2 separate regions of the Homo sapiens genome follow, and region 2 is linked to region 1. The links come from fine-mapping of genetic effects on gene expression. Tissue or cell type: whole blood. Region 1 holds a variant in brackets; the other region holds the start of a gene. All regions are shown on one strand. Distances are between the middles of the regions.

Region 1 (8,103 bases):
GGGCATTTACATTTAAATTGTGGCTTTATTGCTGGTGTTGGCTAATCGTCCTATAGTTCGCATAGTGTATATGGTTCCTAGTGTATATAGTTTATAGTCTAGTCATGGATCTCGGGGTGTAATCCCGCTTGGTGGCATTACAGTGCTGTGGCTTCTCTCAAGTTAGTTTGACATGAGTTATACCCTAAGATAATAACAGTGGTTATCACTAGGTAGACAGAATAGGTTTAATGTTTCTTTTTACCTCTCTGAGTTTTCCTGGTTTCTGCCAGTAAACATGGGTTATGCCGTAAACCTTCCCACTTCTGACACCTGGCCTTCACATCAGCATGGGACACCAGAAAGTGCCTGAATAAGAGCCAGCAAAGAAAAATGTTTTCATTTCTTCTAGTGTAATTTATACTTATGGATCTCATGAGAATTACATTGTTTAGTTAGGGTATGCTTATTTTACATATATGTTTTTTTTTTTTTTTTTGAGACTGCTTCTCGCTCTGTCACCCACGCTGGAGTACAGTGCTGTGATCTTGGCTCACTCTGTCTCCCAGGTTCAAGTCATTCTTCCGCCTCAGCTGGAATTACAGGCGCCCTCCACTACACCTGGCTAATTTTTGTATTTTTAGTAGAGACAGGGTTTCACCACGTTAGCCAAGCTGATCTCGAACTCCTGACCTCAAGTGATTCACCTGCCTCAGCCTCCCAAAGTGTTGGGATTACAGGCATGAGCCACTGCTCCTGGTCTTGTATGTCCATTTTTAATATTTATATATAATTTATATTAACTAACTGGGGTGTCGACACTATGTATCTGGAATTTGAATCTATTTGATAGTCTCTCCTGCAATTACCTCCTCCCTGGAGACAGGGTTTTTTTTTTTTTTTTTTGAGACGGAGTCTTGCTGTCACCCAAGCTGGAGTGCAGTGGCACTATCTCGGCTCACTGCAAGCTCCGCCTCCCAGGTTCACACCATTCTCTCGCCTCAGCCTCCTGAGTAGCTAGGACTACAGGCACCCGCCACCACGCCCGGTTAATTTTGTTTTTGTATTTTTAGTAGAAACAGGGTTTCACCGTGTTAGCTAGTATGGTTTCGATCTCCTGACCTCATGATCTGCCCGTCTCAGCCTCCCAAGGTGCTGGGATTAGAGGCATGGGCCACCACACCCGGCCAGCTTTTAAATAAAAAATGTAATAAAAAGTTTGTAGCTTTCGGTTGACACATGACTTATACCTTTACCATTAGCCTTTAAACTTTCTCACATCTGTGAAATTTTTGTTGTTCTTATAGCTTATAATTTTCATGTCTCTTTTTCTTTGGTTGAAATCCTGACACAAATAGTAGGATAGCTTGGTTTTATTTAGCAGTTAATGTTGTTAACTATTTCAGGAAAATAAGATGATCCAAAATATGATTATTGCTCAGGTGTGATATATGAGTATGTAAGTACTGTATAGTTTGCAAAGTATAATTAGTTTTGTAATCTTATATGTGAATATGTTGCATTAGAAGGAATATTTTTCAAATGTCAGAGTAGGATTATGAGTGATTCCTCCCGTTTCCAGAATTTTATAATAAGTATATATTGTTTTATAATAATAAAGAAGGTTTAAAAATAGTTCATCGTAAGTGATGTAAATGTTTCTACTTGACGGCATTTTAAGAGTCGCGTGGGTTATGGGCGAGCTTATGAAATGCGGTTTGTAAGACTACTTTTCATTCATGAATCCCTCTATTTCATTGTAGTCAGTCTGTTATAAGACATATGTTGTGGAATCTGTTCAAAACCTGGGGAGGAAGTGCATGAGATCTTATCTTCTTGGCATCAGAAGTGTACTCTTGAAAGTAGAATTTTGACTTTTTGAGATGCCACTGTTTATCCTCCCACCCTTCACAGCTCTCCCTGTCTCCCTTCTCCCAACCCAACCCATGCATACAAAAAGTCAGGGTTTGTGATTTAATTTAGAAATAGAGGCAAGATTAGAAAATGGAATTGTGTGGAGACTTGGAGATCATGTAGCATGCAGCAGATCTGTTCTAGGAGGAGTAGGAAGCTCTGGTTGTGAGTGATTGAAGACCACTGCACTGTTCAGAAGCAGCTGTCGCATCCTCTTCCGTTCAGCACCTGATTATTATGTAGCTTTATTTAATGGTGCAAAATACCAAGTAGAGAACAAGGAACATAAGGGCAAAATTAATGGCTGGATAGCTGTTGTGGCTACGTAATTCTGATCTAAAATTAGTTTAGAAATTACAATTGAAAATGCAATTGTGAAATATCATTTTGAAATACTTTAAAATGCTGCCTAGCCTACTGAAATGTTTCTCAGTTGAGGTACCCATGTAAAATGTGTGCGTACACATGGACACACAAACAGGCTAAGAAAGAAGCAGAGGAGTAGAGACATTTAATTAGTTGAGACAGGTTTACCTCCAATGAAATTTTTCTTTTCTTTCAGTTTGTAGCACGTGGGTGGTCTATGTGTTAATGTTAATAATAAAACAGAAGTTACCCATTCTTAGATTACTTAACTCTACTGTCACTAGTGATGGCTTTCCTGCCGAAGGCGCTCCGTAGCTACATGAAGAGGGCACAGAGAAAATTACTTGAAGCTTTCGAGTCACTTTCACTTTTAAAAGATGCTGGTGGCCTTTGGATCCCACTTTGCCCTGGTGCTTGGCCAAGGCCAGGGCATCTGACCGCCCCTGAGCACATGGAGGAAGAAGGTGGTAGAGGGAGGTGTGGAAATCCACGCTGATGGCCCTACCCTTGCTGGTGCCCTCTGTTGCTGGGACTCAGTGCCCCACCTGCTCACCAAGCAGAAGTGATGTCAGAGTGGTCTCCATGGCCAAGAGAGCAGGTTTTGTCAGGCAAGGAAGGAGCGTGAAGATGCACACTCTCCTGGTGTGGAGCATGGTGCTATCCCCAGCGTGTCTTCCTCGGTGCCAGGAGTGTTGGTATTGTGTGCACATTAAATAGAGGACTTTCCCACTCTTCTCTTTACTCTTATGCATTATCTGACCCAAATTTGGGTCCATGGAGTAAACATACTTGGTCAGAAACTGTGAATAGTCATTTCCAGCATTTAAACCTTTCTTGCTGATGACGCCATTAAAATACGCACATGTGCATGCACACAGCGTGACTGCGGCTGGAGAGGAAGGAGCGTTCGCCTGCTCCCGGGCAGCTGGTCAGGCTGGTGGCCCAGCCGTTTATGCTTGCTCCGTGCTCCAGGGTGTGGCCCCTTGCCCAGGGGAAGAAATGAATGTTCTGAAAGAGCACAGCGTATTCTTCAGTCTGCTCCAAGGTTGATTCCCTCTGGAAAGCTTCCCTGGCCCCCTCACTGCTGTCTGGTCTCCCTCAGGTTTTCCCTGCTGGAGAGGCCTTCCCTGACCCAAGGATATGATGCTGCAGCCCTGCCCTCGCTGCTGTCTCCCCAGCTTCGTGGTTCTCCAAAGCTCTCATCCCCGTCTGACACACTCCTTGTTTGTTGCCTGCTTGCCGGACAGGCATTTCTAGTTGTCTTGTCAAGAACCAGCCCGAGAGAGAGCTGAGAGCCAACCTCGGCTTTGCTGTGTGCAGTGGCTGCGGGGTGTGAGCAAGTTGCTGAACGCACAAACTAGAGTATCCCTGAAAGTAAAACGTGCACAGTAACAGAGCTACCTCGTCGGATTACACCAGTGCATACAGGGTAGGTCCTTGGTATAGCTTCCGAGAGATGTTAGTTGTTAATGTTATTATATAAAATCACATAAATTATTTCACTTCAATGGGAGAGGAGTGGTAATAAGCATTTTTTAAAATTGGGTGCCTCTGAAGGGTGAAAGGGCTGGCTGACAGTTTAAACATGTTGCCTAGAGTTTAGCTAAAAGGATAGTTGAATGATTGTGCAGGGAGGTAGGTTATTTTGGAAATACATGTAGGATGATTACTTTCAGCTATGACATCTTAACCTTTGGATAAATGTTTATTAAGGGAATACATCAATGCCAGGCTCTGCTGTGTGCTGTGAGACCTGCCTTCAAGGCACCTCTGTGGAGCCACGAGGGAGGCGTTTAGAACTCTGAATTCTGAGAATTCTAGTTGATCCTCTTTGAAGGATGCTTTTCCTCTCGTATTTCTGAAGATATTGATCTTCTGTATTTGAAAGTCCCCTTGTCTTAGCTCTTGTTGCCATATTGTTTGGGAGTGGGGGGAG[T/A]TGGGGTTAAGGTTGGCTGTCTTGCCTTGGCTGGTCTGCCCCAGACCCCTGCCTGGCTGTCTGGGAATCTGAGGGGTAGGAGGTGGGGGTAGGGATGGGGATGTCTTTTCTGAGCAGGCAAAGGCCCTGTGCAGAGTGTGTGTTCTCTTAGCTCTTGTTTATTGGGCATGACACGTCTCTTCTGTTGTAATGTTTACGTATTGACAGGAGCCACTTACATTGTTGTCTGTGATTAATCTTTTTGTCCTTACCTGTAAACGAGATACAGTATCTACTCATTCATTTATTCAGCAAGTACTTAGAGGGCAATTACTCAGTGCTTGGCACCTAGAACAAAATGAGTTTTGCTCTCAAGGAGTTTAAAATTGTGAGGATTAAATGAGTGTGTTGAGAGAGAGAGAAGTATGGTATCTCATAGCAGATGCTTAAAAATATTTCTCTCTTCTTTTTGTATAGGGCTTTTTAGTTTAGAATACTGTGTTAAAGAACAAACAATCCTACTCATTGTTAATTATTAATTACTTGCATTTTATTTCCACCTACCTCTTTCCACAAAGGATCTGAAGTTTAGTGTATTTTATATATTTCTGTAAATTTTTTTTTTTTGCTTAGAGCAGTGAGTAGATAGATGGATGAAGGAAGGAAAATGAATGAATTTATTATAAATGAGAAGCCAGAGAAAAAGTACTACCAGTTTCCCCTACAATCTACTTAACATAGATAATTTGAGGATGTTTTTTCCCTAATAGGTTGCTTTAAAAAAAAATTAAGTTTTTTGGAGGAGCTTTAGGTTCACAGCGAAATTGAGTGGAATGTGCAGAGATTTCCCAAGTGGCGCCTGCCCCTACACGTGCACAGTCTCCCCCAATATGGACACCTTGTACCAGAGTGGTGGTACCTTTGTTACAATTGGTGAACCTACAGTGACATATCATTATCACCCGAAGTCCACAGTTTACAATAGGAGTCACTCTTGGTGTTGAACATTCTGTGGGTTTAAACAAGTTTATGACAGATACCCTCATATATGTATCATACAGAACAGTTCACTGTCCTAAAAATCCTCTGTGATCTGCCTGGTCATCCTTCCTTCCCCTGTAACCCCTGGCAACCACTCATCTTTTTACTGTCTTCATAGTTTTGCCTTGTTTTGTTTTACAGTGTTATATAGTTGGAATCGTACAGTATGTAGCCTTTTCAGTTTGGCTTCTTTTACTTAGTAACATGCATTTAACTTTCTTCCGTGTCTTTTCATGATTTGATAGTTCATTTTTTAAAAATGCTGAATAGTATTCCATTATCTGAATGTGCCACAGTTTATTCATTCACCAACTGAAGGATATCTTGGTTGCTTCTGAGTTTTGGCAATTATGAACAAAAGTGCTGGAAACGCCCATATGCAGATTTTTGTGTGGACACTAACTTTTCAGCTCTTTTGGGTAAATACCAAGGAGCTCACTTGTTGGATCCTATAAGAGTATGTTTAGTTTTGTAGGAAACTGCCAAACTGTCTTCCTAAGTGCCTGTAGCATTTTGCATTCTCCCCGGCAGTGAGCGAGAGTCCCTCTTGTTCCATGTCCTCACCAGCATTTCGCGTCGCTCCTCTCGGCCCTTCTACTAGGTGTGTCGTGGCATCTCGTTGTTTGAATTTGCATCTCCCTGATGACATATGATGACTTTCACATGCTTTTTTCTACCATCTGTGTAACTTCGGCAAGGTGCTTGTTAAAGCCTTTGGCTACTTTTTAATTGGGTTGTTTTCCTATTTTTGAGTTTAGAAATTCTTTGTATATTTTAGATAAGTCTTATAAGTCTGTGAATATTTTCTTTCAGTCTGTGACTTGTCTTATTCTCTTGGCAGTGTCTTTTGCAGAGCAGAAGTTTTTAACTTTAATTAAGTCCAGTTTATCAATTCTTACATGGAGTGTGTCTTTGGTGTTGTGTCTAGAAAGTCATCACCAAACCCAAGGTTGTCTAGATTTTCTCCTCTGTTTTCTTTAGGAGTTTTGCAGTTTTGCCTTTTGCATTTAGGCCTGTGATCCTGTGAAGGGTAAGGTCTGTGTCTCGTTTCATCTTCCTGCATTTGGATGTCCAGTTGTTCCAGCCCCAAGGGTTGAAAAGCCTGTCACTTCTCCGTGGGATTGCTTTTGTTGGTTGCCTATGCTCTGAAAACTGTTCATATTGCTTCCCTGGGAATTTGACACTATGGAATTTAAAGCTTTACTAGCTTCCCTTCCCCACCCACCCTTCCCCAGAAAAACAAACCCACTCCCTCTTCTTCCCTCAGTCCCCTCTCCAGTGTTTTTCTTACCCTCTTTTTTGAAAGAAAACTTTCAGAATGGTGCCTTTGTGAGGTAGCTGTGAAGTGAGAGTCCCCCCTCAGACTTCATATGAACTGGAGATGGCAGACGTGGAGTCTTCAGCCTCACAGGGGTCGTGCTCAAAACCTAGGGTCCAAACCTGTGGCATTTAACCCCACCGCACTCAACACTGTGTAATGACAGAAACACTGACAGTTCTGAGTGTAACGCATGACCCAAAGCTGGGTTGGGACCCCAGGGCTTCTAGAGCAGTTGCTCTTCCTCCGAGGACTCAAGTGGTGGAGCTGGGCTGCGGGAACCCTTGCTCCCCGCCCACAGCGCCACTGTGCTGTCCCCACTCACCAGGCCTCCACTGTCCCAGCGCCGCTGGAGTCTTTAGGCGGTGGTGGGGGTGGTTGGGTTTTTTAAGTAAGACATTTCTTCATTAAATGCTATACGTTAACACGGCGTTGAATGTCTTTATGTCGAATAAGATTCTACAAAAAGTCAGGTGTAGATGAAAAATATCCTAGAAGGAGGTGAATCTGTAGGTCATATTTGACCCACAGATATACTTTGGCTTGTATTTCTTTTTTCTCTCTTTTCCTTTTCTCTGTCCCTTTCCCTTTCTCTCTCACTTGAACTGGTTGCCAGCACTTCAGTTAGACTTGACACAGAACAGCTGGATTTCTAGCTTCCCTTTAAACCCGGCTGCACTGGGCCTGTGTGGCACGTCCTGGTCCCCCCGAGCTCCATCCCTTCTGGCTTACATCCACCTTGTCCCTGTAAGTTTGTTTTTAATTTTATTTTTGATTTAGTTTGTGCTTTGGCAGTCCCCTAGACTAGAGCTTATATCACGTTCTCGTAGAGACATGTTGGGTCACGTGTGACGCTGGTGTGTGGTCCGTGTTGACTGGAGTGGAGAGGGTGCTGAGAGAGCACGGGCGTGGAGGCCAGAGGGCCATACCTGGTGCTGGGTGGGCCGGGTTTAGAAACACCTTGGGAGAGAAGCCTGGTGGCCGCTTCGTGGCAGGCCCGGGCTGGGACTCTTTCGCCCGCCACGCTCGCCGGCTCGATCTTGTGTTCGCGCTTGTTTCTTCTCTGTACGTGACATTTGGGCTTTCACTGCCTGGTACGGCGCCTTTCACGGGAGCGTTCAGTAAATATTGAGTGCCGTGTGTGCACAGGACCTCATCTGTTTAAAGATGGTTCTGCATGTATTCATCCTGCATCATGCTGCCACGTCTGCCACTTCATTTTTTTTTTGTTAAGGCGATGCCTGGTGCATTCAACTGATTGCCCCAGATCAGATGTTTGTGAAGGGAAGACATGGGAGTTTAGATAGTTTTCGGACTGCAGATAAGGGTCTCCTACCACAGTCTCTGCTGATGATGTAGACATGGAATGTTCAGTTGCAAAATATATTGTTTCAGTTTTATCGCTTTACTTATAGTCTTATGCAGAAGCCTTGAATTACTAGCAACAGCTTTTGTTTTACTTTGCTAAGCTTAATTCTCAAAATTATTTTGAAATGAGTCAGGCTTCTCTAAAAGGTGTTTAGGTTTCAGAATTAGTAACCATTCAGGACTCATTCATAATAATTCTCTT
Region 2 (8,089 bases), 60 kb before region 1:
TTGTGTATTTATCCATTCCCCTATACATGAACACTGGGGTCTGATCTTTTACTATCACAAACAGTGTCGCAGAGAATAACCTCGTTCAAGTGTCATTTTGTACTGGTATGGCTGGAGGACAAATCTCAGAAGCAGGACTGTGGGGTCGAAAGCAAATGCACTTGTAATGTGTAATGTTGACAGTGAGCCACGATCACTCCACCGCACTCCAGCCTGGGTGACAAAGTGAGACCCTGTCTTTAAAAAAATGGAAATAAAAATTCACACTTATATTCAAACAAAACCGCCCTCCCAGTGGGTTTGTATGACTTTGCTCTCCCGCAAGCATGTTGGGAAAGCCTCTATTTCCACAGACTCCTCCGAGTGAATATACATACGGTGATTATTTTGAGTTCCTAGAGAGGCCTTAATTGCCAACTTTGGATAACAACATTTATCACCCATGAGGTGTGCATTAAGAGTGTTTATGACCCTAGCATGGGCTTGATAGCATAACTGGGTGTGAGAAGGATCAATGACCTGGGGCCATTTAGCCATGAGTATTATGGTGACAGTGTTTTCTCTTGCATTGTACTTTCAGGTGTTTGTAGATCCCTATTTCTGCTGCCTCAATTTGTAGCTTAAACCGTCTTCTGCAGCGTGAATGTTTTTCCCAGTTTTACGTTTCATTAGGCCTCCAGTGGGAATCGAATCTGAGCTGCACATCTGGCCCCAGCTGCACTGAGCCCTCAGGTGGCCATGCTGCTGCCCAGCTGTCCAGTGCCTGGGTTCCTACAGGGAGTTCCCTCCTGTGGATAGGAGCTTTGTCTTTGTGCAAACTTCCCAGCTGTGGAAACTCTGGCACCGCTTTAAAGATCAATGCATTTCTTGGCAAGGGATGGGAAAGGCAAACTCCTCTCCACAAGGATTAAGTCTTAACACCAGAAGCCAACTGTCCTCAGCCTCTGCAGTGAGGTTGTCTCCTAAAGAACATTCAGGCTGGTTCCCAGTAGTGCCTGTGCTGGCGGCACCCAGCGTTTTCTAGTTAGGAAGATCACATCCCATCTGGCTGGTCCACATGGTTATACTGAACTTAAATCTCTTTTGTGTCTCTATCGTACACATGAAAGCTCACACACACACACACACACACACACACACACACAGTGTGAGAAGCACTCACACTGACTCAGCGTCTGATGGAAACGGTGTACACAGCTGATAAGCACTGAAGGACTTTGCAGAACACCCAGGGCTGGAATAGGCCAGTGTGTGAAACCAGAACGTGAGCCCTGCTCACTTGCCCTTTCCTGCATCTGACTGGAAATGCTACAAACAGAAGGAAATAGTGAGCGAAATTAACAACCTCATGAGGATCTTGCTTGTAAGTTTAATAGCAGCATTCATAATGAAGCAGTGTTTTATTGGGTTAACAGAGGTTAAGTGGCAATATTAGTAAAGTGGTCATTATAGATTTTCTTCTTTGCAGGCAGTGAACAGAACCTTCTGAAAGGATGGATGATTATAACTCCTCAGCATTCACTGTTTCTTAAAACAGGCCTTTCTGAAAGTTTTTTTTCTTTAATAAAAATTACCACTTTTTCCAAGGACCCCTGTTTGAGGCGTGAGTGGAGAGGCTTCATCTTTAAAGAAGCTCTAACAGGGAACTCTGTCGGTCGTTTGAGGCTTGCTGCCAACAAACAATTGAGGTATTTACCAAGGGTTTCCAAGAAATTGCTGCAAATTATATGAAATGTTATACTGGTAACAGACGTTCAATGTATTAGCAACAGAAAAGAAATGTGAAGTGTGTGGGAACAAAGTTGCCATCTGTGAGAAAATGCTCAGTAAGGTAGGTGGCGATGAACTTTAATAATGTGTCATAAAGAGTCACACTCATGAACACAGAAGGGAAGTTAAGTGATCTGGGATTTTTGAACACATTTCTGAATACTGGTCTGGAATCACTATGGAGGACCGTTTAACGTGATCCAGCAGAAAGACTCATTTGGAGACAGAGCCGGACTCCCGGAGCCCCTCCAGGTGGAACTCACTCCACGCAGAGCTCAGACTCGGTCCCACACTCCTGATCCCTGATCCATCACAGCCCACCTCTTGGGCCACTCCTGTGCCATTGGGACTTTCATGGAATAACTACAGTTAAGGGCTTCCTTACAAGTGTTCCTGGTAACAGTTAATACCTCCCCTTCTTTTATGATGAGAAAAATGGTCAATGATTCCCTCAACAGAGAAGGCCAGTAGCACAGTGAAATCAAGAAGCCCGGAACATGAAAAGTCTTTCCTCAGCTCCCTGCAGTGAAATCCCTATAAATGCGAATCACCCTGCCTACTCCTTACCTTTAAAAATTACTTAGGGTGAGGGGGCTTTAGGATGAGGACAGCCTTGGCCTCCAGGGGGCTGTGGGGAAGGACGCATGTGTGTGCATTGGGGGCAGATGTTCCAGACCCTCGTTGTCCTCCCTGGCTCCTTGCTGGTATTGACTAGTGGGGCTGGGCATGGGACAGGCCTTCATACTGGGGGTACCAGTCCTGTCCAGCTGTTTGGGTCTCTGGCTGTCACTGAAGTTCTTGATTCCAGGTATTTGCTACTGGCTGTGAAATCCCCACTTAGGATAGCCTTGTCTCCTGAGCCAGGCCCCTTACTGGGACACTTTTGGATTCTTCCCCAGGAGAACTGCCTCAGCTCAACAATCCAGCTGCTCCTTCCAGATGTGCTAGAGCTTGCCCTCCTGCTCCTAGGCTGCATGCCGGAATTGGTCCCTGCCCCTGGCAGACTTCTACAGGACCTCAGTTTCTCTCTTCTCCTTCCAACCCTCTCTTGGCCTGGCATATCCCTCTTCTCCCAGAGGGAGTTCCCGTATGTCTTACTCTCCTTCTCCAGGGAATTGTAAGCCCTCAGGCTCAGCCTTTACAAAGAAAAGGGTATCCTTTCTACATTACGAAAGACCCCCATTAAGCCTGCAGGTGAGACAGGTGAGACTGTTAACCTAGGAACTGAGGGACAACTAGGAACCAGGATATTGAGGAGGACAAAATATTTGGCATCCTCAGAATATTATTCCCATCAGATATTTATATACTTTTTTTTTTTTTTTCCTTGAGACGGAGTTTCGCTGTTGTCGCCCAGGCTGCAGTGCAATGCAATGGCACGATCTCGGCTCACAGCAACCTCCACCTCCCGGGTTCAAGCGATTCTCCTGCCTCAGCCTCCCGAGTAGCTGGGATTACAGGCATGCACCACCACCCCCGGCTAATTTTGTATTTTTAGTAGAGTCGGGGTTTCTCCATGTTGGTCAGGTTGGTCTCGAACTCCTGACCTCAGGCGATCCGCCCGCCTCAGCCTCCCAGAGTGCTGGGTTTACAGGCGTGAGCCACCGCGCCCGGCCAGCTTTTCACTGGACACTAGTTTCGAAGAAAACTAGGTAAGTCTAAAGCAGGTTAGAAAATACTGAAATCGTTGAATATGCTACAAAATTGAACATCTGAATCTGGCCAGATTCGTACTTCATGTAAATCACTGTGAATGATGGGGCTGCTGAATTTGGGGGATCTGGTGACTCCTCGGCATTTGTGGTTTATGGTCTTAGTGGAAACCTTTTTCGATGGTTTTCGAGCCTGTAATTCATGGTTGTATGTTCTGTATTTTTCCCAAGACCACTGCTGGAATCCTGTATTCACTGCATAATGAGTATTTTATTTTTAGATGTGGATCACCCCTTAGGGAGGGGCTCTGTGGGAAGGTAGGTAATGAACTATTTTTAATATAAATCACAAGTGTCAAAGAAAGTGGTAATATCCAAAGAATAAACAAGAGTGACCACCATTCAGGTGCCGAGAAGGTATCTGAAGCTCCCACAGGCATTTTAAACTGTGTGATAGTATTTCAACCATTTGGTCAACAATGAAGAAAGATCCAAGGATTGCCCCAGGCATGTGTTTATTTGATTCAATGCAGGTAACTTCTCAGGCCCAGGGAAACACTTTGCCCTTCAAAAGTTTCATTAGAAAACCCCAATATACTGGTGACTAAGTAACAAGACTGAAACTCTACACAAACTTTCGTTGTATGGAGACCTCCGCTTTTGCTGCCTTAGCTGAAGTATTGCAGAGGAAATGTATAAAACTTAAAATCCAGAGTAGAGGATCTGGGACCCAAAATCCGTCTTTAGAAATCCACGGCACTTTTACAGACGGACTATATTAAAGTAGGGACAAAGTCCCAGGCTGGGGGTACTAGCCGGCTATCTGCCCACACAGTATGTAAATGAAAGTAGGGTTTACCATCCAGGGCATTAACTTCATTTTCCTTGTCTTCGAGATCCATTAAATGCTAGTACTGTATGAGAAGCGTGGACCTTAAGTATTAAAGATGGCTTTTTCTTCTTCTTCTTCTTATTTAGCGTAGAAACTAGCAACAGGGAACAAGGTAACTGAATTCACGGTCCACTCGCAGGCGCGCACGTCCCCAGGGCTCCGGGACGGCTGTTCCCTGCGTGCGGCCGCGGGACTGCGGACAAAGCTGCAGTGTGGTCGGGAGCGCGGGGCCGGGAGCGCGGGGCCGGCCCGGCGGCAGGAAGGGCGTGGCCGTGGGGTGCAGCGAGGACGGCCCGTGCGGGAGGAACGTGCGCAGCGTGGAGTCTGGGGGCCGAGAAGCCCCCACTGCAAGGCTGGCTCCCGAGATTCGCGCCCGGGCGCCGCGGTGCGGGAAGCGGCCGTCCTCGCGGGGACGCCCTTGCGCCGGGTGCTAGGTGCGGATCACGGGCAGCTCCGGCCCCGCGGGCGCCGGGCGGGGGCCCACGCCCCCTCCGCCCGCCAGCTCCAGTCGCAGACCGCGCGGGCGGGGCGCCCGAGAGGGCTTTTTTTTTTTTTGGTCAAACTTCGGCCACGTGAACCGCCCCTCATTCACTTTTGCGCCAATCGCGCGGCGCGGACGGATCCCGAGAGGGGCCACGGCTCGCCGCCGGCGGGGCCACTTCATAACGCGCCGTGCGTGACGTGAGGGGCTCCTGTTGCAATGGCGAGCTAAGCCGGAGGATGTGCAGCTGCGGCGGCGGCGCCGGCTACGAAGAGGACGGGGACAGGCGCCGTGCGAACCGAGCCCAGCCAGCCGGAGGACGCGGGCAGGGCGGGACGGGAGCCCGGACTCGTCTGCCGCCGCCGTCGTCGCCGTCGTGCCGGCCCCGCGTCCCCGCGCGCGAGCGGGAGGAGCCGCCGCCACCTCGCGCCCGAGCCGCCGCTAGCGCGCGCCGGGCATGGTCCCCTCTTAAAGGCGCAGGCCGCGGCGGCGGGGGCGGGCGTGCGGAACAAAGCGCCGGCGCGGGGCCTGCGGGCGGCTCGGGGGCCGCGATGGGCGCGGCGGGCCCGCGGCGGCGGCGGCGCTGCCCGGGCCGGGCCTCGCGGCGCTAGGGCGGGCTGGCCTCCGCGGGCGGGGGCAGCGGGCTGAGGGCGCGCGGAGCCTGCGGCGGCGGCCCGGCGGGCGGAGCGGCGCGGGCATGGCCGCGCGCGGCCGGCGCGCCTGGCTCAGCGTGCTGCTCGGGCTCGTCCTGGGCTTCGTGCTGGCCTCGCGGCTCGTCCTGCCCCGGGCTTCCGAGCTGAAGCGAGCGGGCCCACGGCGCCGCGCCAGCCCCGAGGGCTGCCGGTCCGGGCAGGCGGCGGCTTCCCAGGCCGGCGGGGCGCGCGGCGATGCGCGCGGGGCGCAGCTCTGGCCGCCCGGCTCGGACCCAGATGGCGGCCCGCGCGACAGGAACTTTCTCTTCGTGGGAGTCATGACCGCCCAGAAATACCTGCAGACTCGGGCCGTGGCCGCCTACAGGTGAGCCCCTGCTCCCCGGGCACCGCCTCCTGCGTCCGGCATCCCGGCGGCCGGCATCCCGGGTGCTCTCCTGGCTCTCGCCTCCGCCCGCTTCCTAGGCCCTTCTTGGGCTTCCGGCGGGATCGGGTTGCCTCTCGGGAGACGCCGGGCCGAGGGAGAAAAGATCAGAGGCGGGATGGTGAGCGCGGCGCTCAGGAACATGGCCTTTGGGGTCAGATGGACTAGTGTGGCCTCGCTGGGTGTACCTCTCACCCTGATGAAGGCACTTTAGCCTTTGCAAATCGAAGCTTCTCGTTAGAAGGGCCCGACAGATCGGGTCTCCCTCATAATGTTGGAAAACTCATAGCACAGTACCTGATAGTGGAGGCAGTTGGGGCTGATACTGGATTCCCTAAAATGTGCACCTTTGTCCTTGCAAAGCTGGAGCCCGTGTACGTTAATCTAGTTCTAGAACCTTTCCACATCATACTCTCACATTTCGCAGTTGGAGGCACTCCTATAAATGAAAGAGAATGCCCGCAGCATATTGGACCACACCAGTCTGTTGAGTACAGAGAGAGAGAACCTTGGGGAAAAGCAGTTCTTGGCCCTTGGTAGATTCAGTGGAAAACTGCATTCTGGTGTTAATTAGTTCAGCTTGGTGGTGTATGCATGTTATCCAGTAACTGGGCTCTAGTTGGCCAAATGAGTCATAAAAGCAGCTGGAATTGTGTTCAGGTTTAACAAAGGGATTAGCCAATGTAGTCTCTAGAAGGGAGATGATTTTGGAATGGCTGGCATGGTTAGAATCAGATTTGTATTGGAGTGAATTTGAAGTTGGAGAGGGTTGTAGACTCGATAAAGGGATTTGATGGAAACCCTATATGTGTGAAGTATAGAGACACTTACTGTATGGATAAAGTTTGGGTCTTATCCAGCCACAGAGCAAACCAATGTGGGGAATGGTTTTAGAGCATCAGTTGTCTGGTAATGAAATTTCAGAGCAGCCAGTGCTGAGCCAGGCTAAGCTGGTTGCTGTTTGTTCTTATAACCAATACCTTTACACTTCAGTTTTTAAATGCAGTCTTGGTCAGATTTTTCAGGCACTAGATGTTGTGAGGGGAAAAGCATATATGGTCTCCCTTGCCTTTAAGGGAGAAAGTAAAGGACTGAGAAAGAAGGTGAAAGTGGTCTTCAGTGACTGCCCCTTGAATGGCTTGATCCCCATTCCTGCACATTTCCATTAGGGTCCTGCTTAAGTCCAGAACCCACATTCCGCCAGGAAGGGTCCTGAGTGGCTTGAAAAGCTTAGAATGCAGGTATTGTAAATACAGACTAATGCAGGCGGGGCGCCGTGGCTCACGCCTGTAATTCTAGCACTTTGGGAGGCCGAGGCGGGCGGATCGCCTGAGGTCAGGAGTTCGACACCAGCCTGACCAATATGGTGAAACCCCGTCTCTACTCAAGAGTACAAAAATTAGCCGGGTGTGGTGGCGTGCACCTGTAGTCCCAGCCACTCAGGAGGCTGAGGCAGGAGAATCGCTTGAACCCAGGAGGCGGAGGTTGCAATGAGCCAAGATCATGCCACTGCACTCCAGCCTGGGCTACAGAGTGAGACTCCATCTCAAAAAAAAAAAAAAAAAAAAATTCTATCTATCGATCGATAGATAGAGATACATAGACTAGTGCAGTGATTTGGGAACCAGCCTATCAGGATCTCTCCCAGATCTACCTTGCATTACCTGAGGTTTTATGGGATTTTTTTTTTTTTTTTGACCAGAGAAACAGCCGTATCGGAAATCGAGGATGAGCCATATAGATTATTTACAGCATGGTTTTGAAAGTAAATCCGCATGACTCTAGTGTGGTGATAGACCATGTGAAATCACAGTTTTGGGGACAGTTAACAAACCAGTTAGTACAAACAGTAAATTAGGTAACTCCCTTATCTCCCCCATGCCCCCTGAACCAAATACATTTTCATGGTTACGGTATCAATATATTCAAATCAGTGGGGGGCCTAATGCACCAGCAATACTCAGAAAATGTAATGCAGGCCGGGCGCGGTGGCTCACGCCTGTCATCCCAGCACTTTGGGAGGCCGAGGCGGGCGGATCATGAGGTCAGGAGATCAAGACCATCCTGGCTAACACGGTGAAACCCCATCTCTACTGAAAATGCAAAAAAAAAAAAAAAAAAAAAAATTAGCCAGGCTTGGTGGCAGGTGCCTGTAGTCCCAGCTACTCGGGAGGCTGAGGCAGGAGAATGGCGTAAACCCAGGAGGCAGAGGTTGCTGTG

Evidence for each region. PIP is the estimated chance that this variant, and not a neighbour inherited with it, causes the effect.
Region 2: CHSY1 starts here. The variant in region 1 is fine-mapped to the expression of CHSY1 in whole blood (INTERVAL, PIP above 0.99).

Annotation. Positions count from the first base shown.
Region 1 is chr15:101,188,605-101,196,707 of GRCh38, reverse strand. The region is part of intron 2 of CHSY1 (chondroitin sulfate synthase 1); the gene reads left to right. Among named protein-coding and RNA genes, the nearest start is that of LRRK1-AS1, 41 kb to the right of the region's middle. RefSeq lists enhancers at 2,662-3,205, 6,333-7,220. The variant T/A (reference allele first, on the strand shown) is at 4,196.
Region 2 is chr15:101,248,860-101,256,948 of GRCh38, reverse strand. It overlaps CHSY1 (chondroitin sulfate synthase 1), which reads left to right and starts at 4,901. Exons shown (of 3, transcript NM_014918.5): 1 at 4,901-5,812. The coding sequence starts at 5,493. It overlaps LOC107984727 (a long non-coding RNA gene), which reads left to right and starts at 1,015. Exons shown (of 2, transcript XR_001751746.2): 1 at 1,015-1,363; 2 at 1,469-1,589. RefSeq lists silencers at 4,437-4,816, 4,987-5,296, 5,487-5,916.